Linked DNA regions of Homo sapiens. The protein of the gene in region 4 purifies or fractionates together with the protein of the main gene of each other region. This does not show direct contact. Each region holds a gene or a part of one and is shown on either strand. Other genes may lie near its edges.

Evidence for each region. The genes of interacting proteins can lie anywhere in the genome.
Region 1: the proteins of SEC14L2 (region 4) and ANXA7 fractionate together in Homo sapiens (co-fractionation; one large-scale study listed by BioGRID). This does not show direct contact.
Region 2: the proteins of SEC14L2 (region 4) and RIDA fractionate together in Homo sapiens (co-fractionation; one large-scale study listed by BioGRID). This does not show direct contact.
Region 3: the proteins of SEC14L2 (region 4) and ALDH4A1 fractionate together in Homo sapiens (co-fractionation; one large-scale study listed by BioGRID). This does not show direct contact.

Annotation. Positions count from the first base shown.
Region 1 is NC_000010.11:73,383,059-73,386,558, reverse strand, and holds part of ANXA7 (annexin A7), read left to right. Parts: intron 1-2,868; coding exon 2,869-2,982; intron 2,983-3,213; coding exon 3,214-3,384; intron 3,385-3,500. UniProt on the Homo sapiens protein: Calcium/phospholipid-binding protein which promotes membrane fusion and is involved in exocytosis.
Region 2 is NC_000008.11:98,104,508-98,107,171, reverse strand, and holds part of RIDA (2-iminobutanoate/2-iminopropanoate deaminase), read left to right. Parts: intron 1-845; coding exon 846-900; intron 901-1,165; coding exon 1,166-1,234; intron 1,235-2,627; coding exon 2,628-2,664. UniProt on the Homo sapiens protein: Catalyzes the hydrolytic deamination of enamine/imine intermediates that form during the course of normal metabolism. May facilitate the release of ammonia from these potentially toxic reactive metabolites, reducing their impact on cellular components.
Region 3 is NC_000001.11:18,878,556-18,882,055, reverse strand, and holds part of ALDH4A1 (delta-1-pyrroline-5-carboxylate dehydrogenase, mitochondrial isoform a precursor), read left to right. Parts: intron 1-168; coding exon 169-356; intron 357-2,682; coding exon 2,683-2,756; intron 2,757-3,500. UniProt on the Homo sapiens protein: Irreversible conversion of delta-1-pyrroline-5-carboxylate (P5C), derived either from proline or ornithine, to glutamate. This is a necessary step in the pathway interconnecting the urea and tricarboxylic acid cycles.
Region 4 is NC_000022.11:30,395,521-30,399,817, reverse strand, and holds the start of SEC14L2 (SEC14-like protein 2), read right to left. Parts: upstream 2,801-4,297; 5' UTR 2,702-2,800; coding exon 2,648-2,701; intron 176-2,647; coding exon 100-175; intron 1-99. UniProt on the Homo sapiens protein: Carrier protein. Binds to some hydrophobic molecules and promotes their transfer between the different cellular sites. Binds with high affinity to alpha-tocopherol. Also binds with a weaker affinity to other tocopherols and to tocotrienols.

The DNA of each region.
Region 1 (3,500 bases), on a different chromosome or scaffold from region 4:
AAGATTTGGCTTAAATATCAGCTACTCTGAAGTTTCTTTCATTAGTCTGGACAGAATTTAGCTGCTTCTTAATACTGTAGTCCCATAGCACTTTGTAAAACCTCTGTTATTACTAATCTCACGGCCCACCCCCAAAAACTGAGCTCCCATAGGACAAACCATGGTCATAGTCATCTTTGTATTACAGTACCAAGTATATAATGGCAAGTAGCCACTTAGTACTTGTTGAATGGATGATCAGTTTCTAAATCCAACAAGATTCTATGGCTAAAAAATGCCATTGTTCCTCAGATGTAATGGGAAAACATGGATAGCACTGCTTTGCTTTTTTTTTTTTTTTTTTTACTTTTTTTTGAGACAGAGTCTCAAAAGGCTGGAGTGCAGTGGCATGATCTCCGCTCACTGCAGCCTCCACTTTCCAGGCAAGAGCGATTTTCGTGCCTCAGCCTCTCGAGTAGCTGGAATTATAGGTGTCTGCCACCACACCCAGCTAATTTTTGTACTTTTAGTAGAGACGGGATTTTGCCATGTTAGCAAGTGTGGTCTCAAACTCTTGGCCTCATGTGATCTGCCTGCCTTGGCCTCCCAAAGTGCTGGGATTACAGGCATGAGCCACCACGCCTGACCTGCTTTGCCATTTAGATAGGAATCCTAAAAATATCCTAATGTTCTCTGCATCTAGTTTATATTTCTCAGAATGGGGTAGTGGTCCATTGATTGGTCCCACCTTGCTTATTCTATTTTGCCTTTCCCTGTCTGCCCAGCCCAGTGACTGATTATGCAACACAAACCCTAGATCTCCTTAAGCTTCAACATCAGACTCACTATTCTCACAAAGATATTTTCCATGTTATGAATTTTTTATCTAGTCTGCACAATGCTGTCTCAAGTTTTTTTATATATTGCTTTAGAATTAAAACTAACAATCTAATTTCCGTACCACTAGCCACCTCTTTTCTTAACTTCCTAATTAGTAAAACACTGTTTTTCTAGCCTGCTATAGTCATCTTTGAGTCCATGTTTTTCTTTTATCATAGGGAGTATTCTGTATGCTTTGTCCTAGCAGTTGGTTATTTACTAGTTTTTATTGATCTAATCTATAAAATGGCCCTTTAAAATGTTTCTTTTGTCTACTTTGTTCCTTCTCATTTCCATTGTTACCATTCAAGTCCAAGACTTTATTACCTCTTAACTAAATATTCCAGTAGCCTAAATGTTTTCATCTATAGCTTCTTTGTCACCATCATCCATTCTGAATATTGTTGCTACATCAGTGCCATTTTCTTGCATGAAAAGTTTCCAGTGGTTCCTCCCAGCAAACAGAATCAAGTCCATATTCTTTAGCTTGGCATTCAGTGTAATAATCCAAGATTTAGTTACAACTTTGTTTTAACTCATCTATTATGAAAACCTTCCTCTGTAGCAAAACCGGTTGTCTTATTGTTCCATTGAACAAGCTTTGCTCATTCTTGGCTCTATACGAGTAATTCTCAACCTTAACTGAACATCGTAATTTCCTTTAAAACTTAAAAATACACAGAATCTCTGAGTCTTAGTCCTGGACATCAATGTTTTTCTTTTTTTTTTTAAAGCTCCACAATGAATGTAATGAAGAGTCAAGGCTGGGAACCCCTTCTCTGTTCCTTGGTGGTGTTCCTTCTTACCTGAAATACCTTTCTCCTTCGTCTTTGCATGCTAATTTTTACATTTTTCTCTGAGCTCTCCAGCTGACTTTGAACTTTTTCTGTTTCAACTTTCTCTATTACTTATTTCTATGCTACTTACCCAGTGCTAGAGTACAGGTTACCTTACATTATTTTTTTTTTAGATGTGTATCTTTCCAAATAAGAACAATATCGGCTGGGCACAGTGGTTCATGTGTGTAATGCCAGCACTTCGGGAGGCCAAGGCGGGTGTATCACTTGGGGTCAGGCATTCAAGACCAGCCTGGCCAACATGTGAAACCCCATCTCTACTAAAAATACAAAAATTAGCCTGGCGTGGTGGGATGTGCCTGTAGTCCCAGCTACTCAGGGGGCTGAGGAAGGAGAAGCGCTTGAACCCAGGAGGCAGAGGTTGCAGTTAGCCGAGATCACACCACTGCATTCCAGCCTGGGCCACAGAGCGAGACTCTGTCTCAAAAAAAATAACAACAAAAAACAAATAAGAACAAGATGATAATGGTTTCTACTTCCTCATAGAACCAAGAACAGTTCCTTTTACTAAGTAAATATCTGTTTATCATTTTGTCAGTTTGAATAATTCTTTGTTTCATATATCCCTTGTTTTTGTACCTGGTAGAGTGGAATAAGATTTTATTAAATGTTTATTGATAGAATGAATAAAATAGATCTGCTTGAGTGTAATAAATGTGTAAGTGTAACAGACTTTAAATTTATTTACTTCTTTTTTATTTCTATTTATTTATTTTTTTTTTTGAGACGGAGTCTTGCTCTGTCGCCCAGGCTGGAGTGCAGTGGTGCGATCTCAGCTCACTGCAAGCTCTGCCTCCCAGGTTCACGCTGTTCTCTTGTGTCAGCCTCCCGAGGACCTGGGACTACAGGTGCCTGCCACCACTCCCGGTTAATTTTTTGTGTTTTTAGTAGAGACAGGGTTTCACCGTGTTAACCAGGATGGTCTTGATCTCCTGACCTCATGATCCTCCTGCCTTGACCTCCCAAAGTGCTGGGATTACAGGCATGAGCCACCGCGCCTGGCCTTTATTTACTTCTTAGTATATTAACATTCAGCTTTCAAATTTAGGTTTTTATAAAGCAATTCCATTTCTTTTTTTGTATTTTCCTTAAAAGATTTAAGTGACAAAATTTGGAGAACACATATACTTAGCTTGTATTTGTGATTAAATAGGATTTAATCAAAGATCTCAAATCAGAGTTAAGTGGAAATATGGAAGAACTGATCCTGGCCCTCTTCATGCCTCCTACGTATTACGATGCCTGGAGCTTACGGAAAGCAATGCAGGTACTACTATATGTCATTTATTATGAATATTTTGTCCTATTTCATATGTAAAACCGTACAAATTATGACAGTTCTGAATTTACAGTGGTAATTAAAGCAATTCTTTATTTCACATCATCCATCTGAATATATAGTTTTTAGTTCTACAGAACAAAGAAATATTTGACGAAGATTTAATTACTTGCAGAAATTTCATTTTTCTTTGTATAATCTTCCCTTCATTTCATGTAGGGAGCAGGAACTCAGGAACGTGTATTGATTGAGATTTTGTGCACAAGAACAAATCAGGAAATCCGAGAAATTGTCAGATGTTATCAGTCAGAATTTGGACGAGACCTTGAAAAGGACATTAGGTCAGATACATCAGGACATTTTGAACGTTTACTTGTGTCCATGTGCCAGGTGAGTATAGTATGAATGCTTGTGCGTTGATAGAGGGAACATACTTTAAAAGCCTTTTGCCAGTGAGCATTCTTTATTCCTTTTAATATTTAGCCACCTTGCAATATTGCCATCTT
Region 2 (2,664 bases), on a different chromosome or scaffold from region 4:
TACAACTAAAGTAATGTGGAAAGATCTCCGAGGTAAATTGTTCCATGGTAATAAAACCAAGATGCAGAACAACATGCACAGTATGCTACCATGTGTGCTTGTGTGTTTAAAAATATGTAACATAAGCATTGACTGTACCTAGAAGGATATACAATAAATTAGGAACAGTGGTTACCTCTGAGGAGGGAAACTTGGGAGAGGGAGAGAGGGGTGAGAGATATCTTTACACGGTATATGCTTTTTTAATAGCTTTTGAGTTTTTTTGTTGTTGTTGTTGCCATATCCATGTATTACCTATTTAGAAGATTATTTTAAAAGACACAAGAATATAATGAAATATTGCATTGTGACCAGCAAAGTGGGAAGAGTGAATCCAAAAAAAGATAAATGTTTTTCCAGAAGCCAGTGTCTCCAACTGTTATATAATTTACTAATATTGTTTTTTTGAGAAAAAGGAAAAAGAACCCTTTGAAGTCAAATATTGCTTTAAAAGAAAATATGTTTTAATGCTTACTAGCTCATCCTTATCCTTGACGTGATATCGAATGAAGAACACCAGAAATTATTTCTGTGGACATTGGCTGAACAATTAACACATTTTAGCACTGAAGAAGGAACTTCAACCTAGTCTTTTTACGCACAAAAGGAGACAACATTTTCACCATATATCAGAAAGACTCATTCTATTAAAGGAAAGCCAAGAAACACACTTGTAAGCGAGTAGGGAGGATTTTTCTGCAACATAGGCTATTTAAGGAGGTATTAGTAAAAGATGATTAATTGAATTTAATTAAAGCTTTAAATCTAACATCAGTGACTTAGGCCTTTCTTGGCTTGGTTCACAGGCTCTTAAAAACATGGGTGAAATTCTGAAAGCTGCAGGCTGTGACTTCACTAACGGTGAGCAATTTGATATTATTTCACATTTCTTTTTGATATTTCTTTGGTCTTTTTGAAAAATATATGGCATCCAGTAAGATGCCGTGCCATATCTTTGTTGCTATTTAAAAGTTGTTTTAAATAGCAACTGTTCTACTTCACTTCTTTGGTCCCATTTCAGTCCCATTTTAATCAAGACAGTCTCAGATTCATACACTCTTTTTCTAAGTAATGTTTTGGGTCAGACCAAATAACTAAACCTAATGACAATGTTTATATCTTCTAGTGGTGAAAACAACTGTTCTTCTGGCTGACATAAATGACTTCAATACTGTCAATGAAATCTACAAACAGTGTAAGTAATTTGGCTTTATTCCTATTTTCCATTTTTAAAAAGAAAGAAATCTGGTCACATTAATGAATGTGCATTATGAATTAAGAGTGGTAGGAGATGCTAAAGAAATGGTCATAGATCTTAAAAGAATTAATAATCTGATTGGAAATATGTTGTATACCCCCCATGAAAAAGTTCTAAGACATTTCTATTGCATTCCCTAAAACAATATACTGAAATCCTACATATCCATTTTTCAAAAGCTTAATTTCATTAAATCCTTCTCAGGCTTTTTAAACTCTCCTAACAAGTTTTTTATGCATAGATTTTATTTACTGTGGCTGTATGGTGCAGCCACCATCTTTATCCTGGCTCTCTCAGACTCATTAGTTAGTTACTTAATATTTCTATGCCTTGGTTTTCTCATATGCAAAATGGAGATAATATACTCCTAACTTATAGGGTTGTTGGAATGATTAAATGAGTCAGTACAACATGTAAAGCACTTAGATGCTGGTGTGTTATAAGCACTGAGTAAATGTTAGCTATTATTAACATTGATGTTATAGTAGGGAAAATTGGTGTCCCCAACACCTAATGGGATGAGGCAAAGGTATAACTTGGAAAAAGCATCGTTACTTATTCTCTCCTGAAGAAATTATTAGAAAAGACCAAAGTTGGCAGAGGAAGTACTTGCCAAAATTTCTGGAGATGGGCACTTGTTCCCTATTTAGATAAATAGTTTATAAATATCACTTTAAAAACAAAACTCCATTCACATCAAACAAGATCAAAATGTTAGGGTATGTATTTCTTTTTTTTTTTTTTTTTTTTTTTTGCCAGAAAGCTAAGAGATTTTAAAAAGTATTAACTATCATAGGAATCATATGGCAAAATATTTTATCAAACAAATCTGATAGTGAGCCTCTTTTTTAAAATGTTGCTTAAGGCCAGGAGCAGTGGCTCACACCTATAATCCCAGCACTTTGAGAGGCTGAGGTGGGTGGATCACTTGACATTAGGAGTTTGAGACCAGTCTGGCCAACATGGTGAAGCCCCGACTCTACTAAAAATACAAAAATGAGCCAGGCATGGTGGTGCACACCTGTAATCCCAGCTACTCGGGAGGCTGAGGCAGGAGAATCTCTTGAACATGGGAGACAGAGGTTGCAGTAAGCTGAGATCGCATCACTTCACTCCAGCCTTGGGCGATAGAGCAAGACTCTGTTTCAAAAAAATAAAAATAAATGTTGCTTATATCTAAGAACTGACTAGTATATGAAATATTTGCCAGATTATTAATTGTAGATATTGAATAACAATAGAATATCTGAAAACTAAAATAAAAATTTTCACTTGATCTTTATTTTTTCAACTCTTCTCTATTAAAAAAATGAAATTCTTTTAAATTCAGATTTCAAGAGTAATTTTCCTGCTAGAGCTGCTTACCA
Region 3 (3,500 bases), on a different chromosome or scaffold from region 4:
AGATAGGGCCAGACGCCTTGGAGGAGTGGGGTCGGGTAGGGGATGTCCTGGTTGGCACAGAGTCTGGTGGTTCCAGGTGAGGGACAACCATGCTGTAGGGTAGGGTGGGGTGGGGGTTGGGGGCTGGTGGCGCCATCCTCATGCATCACTGAAACACCTCCCGGGCAGGGCAACGTGGTCCTATGGAAGCCCAGTGACACTGCCATGCTGGCCAGCTATGCTGTCTACCGCATCCTTCGGGAGGCTGGCCTGCCCCCCAACATCATCCAGTTTGTGCCAGCTGATGGGCCCCTATTTGGGGACACTGTCACCAGCTCAGAGCACCTCTGTGGCATCAACTTCACAGGCAGTGTGCCGTAAGTCCCTGGGGATGGTGTAGGCTGTGGTGGCTAGGGGACGTTCACCTGCTCACCTGCTGTCTGCCTGGGGATGGGGCTGTGAACCCAGGGGTCATGCACGGACTCTACTCCCTTACTTGCTGTGTGGCTATGAGTGAGCCACTTCACCTCTCTGAGCTTCCATTTCTTCACCTGTACAGGGAGTGATTATCCTTAATTTGCAGAGTCATTGCAAGGATTAAACATGTTAATGAACAGGAAAGAGCTTCGCAGACTGGAAGTGCACCCTACAGCTGTGGGTAATATTGATTTCAGTGCTACCTCTGCTACTGGAAAGGGCACAGGGGAGCACAGAATGAACTGGAGGAGTCAGGAAGCCTTCCTGGAGGAGGTGACATCTAAGCAGAGGAGTTGGCCAGGCAGAGGGGAAGAGGCAGGAGAAGAATATATATGTTGGGAGAGGGAATAGCACATACAATGTTGCCAAGCCAAAAACTTGTGCTCTGGGGCATGGCAGGATCCTGTGTGGCTGGAGTGTGGAGTTTGGGGGCGACAGGGCAAGAGAGTGAGGGCAGGGCATGGTTTGAGTTGAGGTAGGGGAGGCAGGCCACTACCTGATCTCGACCATCCATGCACTCACTGGCTGAGCAGGAAATTTGGAGCTCACACTAAGGCTCAGTGGTGAGCACACACCAGGGACAAGGTCCCGGCTCTCAGGCTGGAGGTGGCGGCAGGGAGTGGTTCAGTGACCATAAGATACTTAGGAGTCTGCAAAGGTGTCTGGCCTTTATCCTGAAGGTGATGGGAGCCATGGAAGGCTTCAAGCAGGGAGAGTGGCTGAGTCAGAGTTCTGTGTCAGGCAGAGATTGCAAATAATGGCCCCCAAATTGGATCTGGCAAGAGGCTCTACTTTCTTTGACTCCTAACAGTGATGGCCCAACTTTGTATAATTGGGACAATTTCATAGATAAATCCAAATATTGGCCTGTCTTGGTCCCCTGGACCTGGATGCTCTGATCTTGCATTTCCTGGTGGTACCACTGGCTGGAAGTGGGTGGGTGCCCTCTGGCTCCCTGCATACCTGATCCACGCTGTTTCCTTTCCCTGCTGGCTCCTCTGGGCCCCTGTGTTGGCACCCTCATTCTCAGTGATCTCTCTGTGACCTGATGCAGGAGACTGGCCAGGGACTGTTGACCTCCAGGGAGGGGTGGTAGGGGCTTGAACCAGGGGAGAGATGGGGGATGTGGAGAAGGGGGCAGGTTCAGGTGAGAAGGATGCAGGGAGGCACAGTGGCCATTGCCTGTCCTGGAGTTGGGGTTGGGGTGCGTGTGGGGATGAGGGGGGTTGTCAGCGAGAATGTTCAAGATGGGCACCTGGGAGGGCGAGCGGGCTCGGGGGAAGATGAATCTCCTGTTGGTCACTTCGGGTGTTATCTGGGTGGAGATGCCTGGAGGCAGCCAGACGCCCGGGTCTGCAGCTCAGGGTCCTTCTTACCTCCTCTTCCAGGCCCCAGGCTCTGCCACCCCCTTCCCCGCAGCTTTGCTGGGGGTGGGAGTGGGTGGTGGCAGCGTTAGAACTGCTGAGAAGGGCCGTTTTCCAAAAGGCCTGCTCTGCCAGCCACGGGCCCCTGGGCTCCCCGCCTATCAGCGGGCGGAGCGGGCCTGGACCCCATTCTCCACGCTCTGATGAGCAGCGGGCTTAAAGGTGGGAAGGCCATAAATTAGTATTAGCTACTGTGTCGCTGGCTCCCGGGTGATTAGCATTTTTATTGTTTTGTGGTGCTGAGGTTGGTCACACTTGGAGCCTGGGGAGGAGGCGAGGCCCTCCAGGGTGGTGGCTTCGGGCGGGGCCTGAGCTCCCTCTCCCAGGACTCTCCTCGGTTTGGCCTCTCAGGCCTGGGCGCTGGGCTTGGGGGGGATCCTTCGCAGACCACAGCGGGGTCTGTTCCCTGCCAGGTACCTGCAGTGTGCCCAGCATGTCTTAAGCACATGCCTCACACTTGAACTCATCACAAAACAACCCTGCCAGGTCAGGATTGTTCTCCCTGTTTCCCAGATGAGGTGCAGAATTCGAGGCTCAGAGAGGTTAAGTAATGAACCCAGGATCACACAGCCCTTAGTGTCCTCCTGGCTGCAGAACATGGACCTCCTCTGCAGCATCTTGCTGCCTAGCCCCCCGTTGCCCGCTCCCCGTAGTCTTGGAATGCAGCCTGTTCCCAGCCGCCATCCCCGACTTGGCTCCCACCTCCTGCTGGGCTGCCCCCGGCAATGCTCCTCCCTGGGCTTTTCCGCCCCCTTCCTCTGGCCTGGCTCCCTGAACCCCACCCTTTCTCCTGTGGTTCCAGCACCTTCAAACACCTGTGGAAGCAGGTGGCCCAGAACCTGGACCGGTTCCACACCTTCCCACGCCTGGCTGGAGGTAAGGCCTGCCTCACCTCCTCCTCCCGTGTGGCCCCAGGGACCCCTCCCCTGGCCATTATGAAAGAGGAGGGAGGTAGAGGGGATCCAGCCACAAGTCAGGTGGATGAACCATTTCAGGCACCAGCACTGCCCAGTAGAACTTTTTGTGATGAGGGATGCGTCCAGTACCTTCACTCTCCAATATGCAGCCACCAGCCACACATGGCCATGGAGCCCTTGAAGGGTGGCCTGTGCGACTGAGGAACTGCATTATCTAGTTTTCTTTCATTTTAATTAAGTTAAATCTTAGTAGCCAGTCGTGGCTGGTGGCTGCCGTGTCGGGCATTGCAGCTGTAAGCGGAGGCAAGTGCAAATGCAGAGACCAGAAGTGGGAATGAACTTGTATTTGAAGAAACAAAGCAAGGCCCATGAGTAGGGAGGGAGGAGGGCTGGTAGGAGAAGACGGGCTGAGACGTAGGCAGGGCTGGACCTTGTTGGCATATTAAAGTTTTCCCACAAAGAAACAGTTTCATGGTCAAGGAAATTTGGCATGTGTGGTGTTAAAGCAAAATGGACTCCTCCCGTGCAGAACTTCTCAGAGCCTTGAATGCTCTAATACGCATGGCACATCTTCAAGGACAAGGTCTGCCATGTAGTGTTTCCCACACGCATTGGGCCATGGAACCCCGTTTCTGCAAAGACCCCCATGGACCAAGTGTTTTGTGGAGCACATTTTGGGAATGTGCTGAGGCCTAGAGGGAGG
Region 4 (4,297 bases):
TAGATGCCTCAATTGCCAAGGGCAGGGTTTTCAGAGGGTGCTATTCTGTTGCCCAGAACAAGCCCCTGCCCCAGCCTCCCGCAGCCCCTCTTCCCTCACCTCGGAGCCAACGCAGGAGAAAATAGTCATCTGGATTCGGCAGGGCCGGCAGCACATCCTGGACATTCTCCCGAAACTGTAGGGAGAGGCATCGGGGTGAGTGGTAGGGCCCGCCCTGACTGCTGCCCTCTGCCTAGGACTCTCCACTGAGATCTTTGCTGGACGCCTCTTTCTTTGTTTCTTTTTTTTTTTTTTTTTTTTTTTTGAGATAGAGTCTCGCACTCTCGCCCAGGCTGGAGTGCGGTGGGCGATCTCCACTCCCTGTAAGCTCTGCCTCCCGGGTTCACACCATTCTCCTGACTCAGCCTCCCAAGTAGCTGGGACTACAGGGGCCTGCCAACACGCCTGGCTATTTTTTGTATTTTTAGTAGAGACAGGGTTTCACCGTGTTAGCCAGGGTAGTCTTGATCTCCTGACCTCGTCCTGATCCGCCCATCTCGGTCTAAAGTGCTGGGATTACAGGCATGAACCCCCACGCCCGGCCAACTGGACTTCTCTTTAACATAGTTCAACTCTGCAGACACTCCCTGGGCACTCATGCTGCCTGGAGCACTGTCTTGTCAGGGGGTGCCAGGTTGCAGGGCAGGAAGTGGGAAGGGAGTGAGACACTGCCCCTGCCCCACAACAAGGGCTCCCACACACCAGTCTGCGGGCAGGCAGATGTGTTCCCAGCTAATCGTGATAGTAGGCACTCTGATACGGACTGCAGTAAAAGCTGTCAGTTTACCAAGCATTTCCTGTCGCTCAGCGCTGATCTTGGCACCATAGCTTATTTACTCCTCACTCACAACCCGTAGAAGTATTGTCCCCATTCTACAGATGAAGGAATTAAAGCTCAGAGAGGCTAAGTAACATGCCCAAGGTCAAACAGCTAGTCATTAGCAGAGTTGGGATGCAAACCCGGGTCTGTCTGAGTCCAGAGCACACACTCTTTCCACCATGGTCTTCTGCCCCATGGAAGGATGAGGAGTTTGCTGGGGAGCAGAGGGAAGAAAGAGGTGGTCTCACACGGCTTCCTATAAAACATGGCATTTGTGCTGGGCTTGAAGGACTTCAAAGGCAGCGGGGGAGAGAGGTGGGCAACTCAGGTGGAGGGAACAGTTCCAGTAGGGGAAGCCAGGAAGCGGGAAAGTGCAGGTAGTGCCAAACAAAGGAGGTGGACAGTGACCTCAATGGACAGCCACACCTACCTCCAACCTCTCACTCCCTGGTAGGCGAACAGGCCCCTATATGCCCTCCCTGAGCCTCCTGCTCCCAGCCATTCACCTTTCCCTGACCACTGACCTAGAGGGCAGTCCCAGAGGACACTAATGAGGACTGGCCACCTCTGCCCCTTGCCTAGGTCAGCCAGGGACTCAGACCATCCCACCCCACAAAGCAGCTCCCAGTGCACCAGGGAAACTGCTCCTCCAAACTGCAGGCATGAAGCTACCCCTCTCCAAGGACCCTAACCAGCCCCTGGTCTCCAGTTTAATCACCACCTAATCCCTTCTCTGCCTGACCTCTCCTGCGAGTCAGCAGTAAAATCTGAAGCCTCCCTGTCCAGCCTTCCTGGGATGGGGGAGGCCCAGCCTGGGACAGAGGCTTTATGGAGCTGGTGCCTCCCCACTGCTGCCAGTGGCAGGATACATCTGCCCCCCGCCCCACCTTTCCCAGCCATGGAAAACTCCCCAGCTGTGGAGCCTCCAAATCTTGGGGCCAGACCCTATCGGCTCTTGCCCAGAGAAGAGCCGACCTCCTCACTCCCCAGGGGTGACAGATAAGAGATTTAGTTCGTGAAGAGGAAGGTCCCGCCCTCAAACTGTTGCCCCCTCCTTGTCACAGATGCCAAGGCAAAGCCAGGCTCACCTTCTTGCCTTCTGAGGAGCATAAACCTTAAGTCCTGAACCAGGCAGGGGTCTGGGATGCAAGATAGGGGACGGCTGGTCTCAGCTCAAACTAACACCAACCCAGTGCCTCATGGGGGGAGCCTGGAATTCACACACGGAGGTGTTCCCTTCAACATCATCTGGTCCAACCTCCTCATTCCATGGCATCGAGGAGCAAAGAGAAGGGCAGGGTTTTGCCCAAGGTCGCACAGCGGCTTGGTGCCGGGGCAGGAGCTATCCAAGTCTCCCAAGGAGCTATCCAGAGCCCTTTCCATCGTGCCACTGACCCTACAAGAAGAAAGCCTCCCGGAAATGGGAGGAAACTTGGGCCCCTGCCCCTGCCCCTGCCCCAGGGCCCGGCTGCCAGTCCCGAGGATGAATGTTGCCTTTGTGCCCTCAGCGGCCTCCGGGGACTCACAAGCAACCACTTGTCCCCAGGTGGCACCGCCACGGCTGCTCAGAGCTTGGGCGGGGGGTGGCCAAACTTCCTGGGACCTCGAGGGTGGCAAAGGGAGGAAGGAGCCATCCGCGGGCGCGGGCCAGGCTGGGACAGCCGCCTCTGTTCCCTCCGCCGCCCGCCACGGACCCTCGGCCCCCACCCAGCCCCGTCCCTTCTCGCTGCCGCAGGAGGGCGAGGGCCACAGCCCGAGGCGGGAGCCCGGGCCAGGGCTACAGCTCACCTTGGCCAATGCCTCCTTCTGCCTGGGGCTCAGATCGCCGACTCTGCCGCTCATCGTGGCTCAACCGCGGGGATGGGGTTTGGGGGCGGGAGGCGGCGGGTGCGGCAGCTGATGGAGCACAGACTCGTCCTCGCCGCCACCCGGAGTAAAGTCCCAGCCTTTTGCCCGGGCCGCGGAGCTGGCAGCCAAGCCCCGCCTCTTAAAGGATCCCGAGAGGCGGAGTAGGGAGCGATGCGCTGGGGCGCGGAAGGCTCTGACACGGGCCCCCTCCGCCCTCCTGAAGTCAGAGACCCAGGCAGGAGGCGAGCAAGTGTGCCCACTGGGACTGAGGCCAGTGGGCATCAGAAGGGCAGGGAGTCTCAGTTTTAGTTCCAAATTTATCCTTACCTCATTGTGTGACCTTGGAAGAGACACCTGAGCTCTCTGGGCCTCTGAACAAGGAGGGATTGAAAGGTGCTATCTAATGAGCTCTTCTAACCAGGCTCGCATAGTGCAGGACAGCACAGCATCCTGCACACAGGGATTGTTTTTGCATTGTTTTTTTTTTGAAACGGAGACTCGCTCTGTCACCCAGGCTGGAGTGCAGTGTCACGACCTCGGCTCACTGCAACCTTCGCCTCCCGGGTTCAAGCTATTCTCCTGCCTCGGCCTCCCGAGTAGCTGGGATTACAGGTGCACGCCACCATGCCAAGCTAATTTTTGTATTTTTAGTACAGATGGGGTTTCACCATGTTGGCCAGGCGGGTGTCGAACTCCTGACCTCAAGTGATCCGCCTCGGCCTCTCAAAGTGCTAGGATTACAAATGTGAGCCACGGTGCCCAGCCTACAGGGATTATTAATAAATGTATCCTGAATGAATGAATGAATGTAAGAACTGCTCCAATAGAGACACAGATCCCGGGGCTGGCAGAACCCTGAGAGGGAGAGAGAAACATAGATCATTCAGGGATCATGCAACTTACCTCGTTTAACAGCTAGGGAAACTGAGGCCCAGATAAGGCATGGCTTGCCCAAAGTTGTTAGTGGCATGACATATGTGGAGTGCCCACTGCCTGGCACATGGAAAGTGCTCAGCTGTGCCCTCCCCTTATGGCCTGGAATTAATGCAGAGCTAGGTCCAGGAGTCTGTGGGCATCTCGTCTCCCAGAGCCATACTTCTGCCCCCTCAACACTCAAGTCTCTGGGAGAGACAAAGCAGAATGTCCCCAGTCTCTCTCCTTACCTGGAGGCAAAGGCACCAGGCCTGTTAAAGACATTTAAGGACTTTGCTCTGCCCTTGGTGTGGCCCCCTCCATAGACGCCTGCTGCAGGGTGCAGAGTGAGGGTTGAGGCCCCCAACGCCCACCTCTACAGAGAGTTTTCAGGCAGTTCTGCCCTAGTTAGGCTCGCTGGCTTCTGGCCTGGGGCAGGACAGGGCTGCCTTCCTTACTGGATACATGGCTAAGATCTTTATATAAGACCCTTCCAGGGCCAGGATATTCTTTCCAGGCTAGAGCCTACTCAAAGGAAACTATTATAGAAGAACAGCATCTTGGCCGGGCGCGGTGGCTCACACCTATAATCCCAGCACTTTGGGAGGCCAAGGCAGGCAGATCACCTGAGGTCAGGAGTTTGAGACTAGCCTGGCCAACATGGTGAAACCCCGTCTC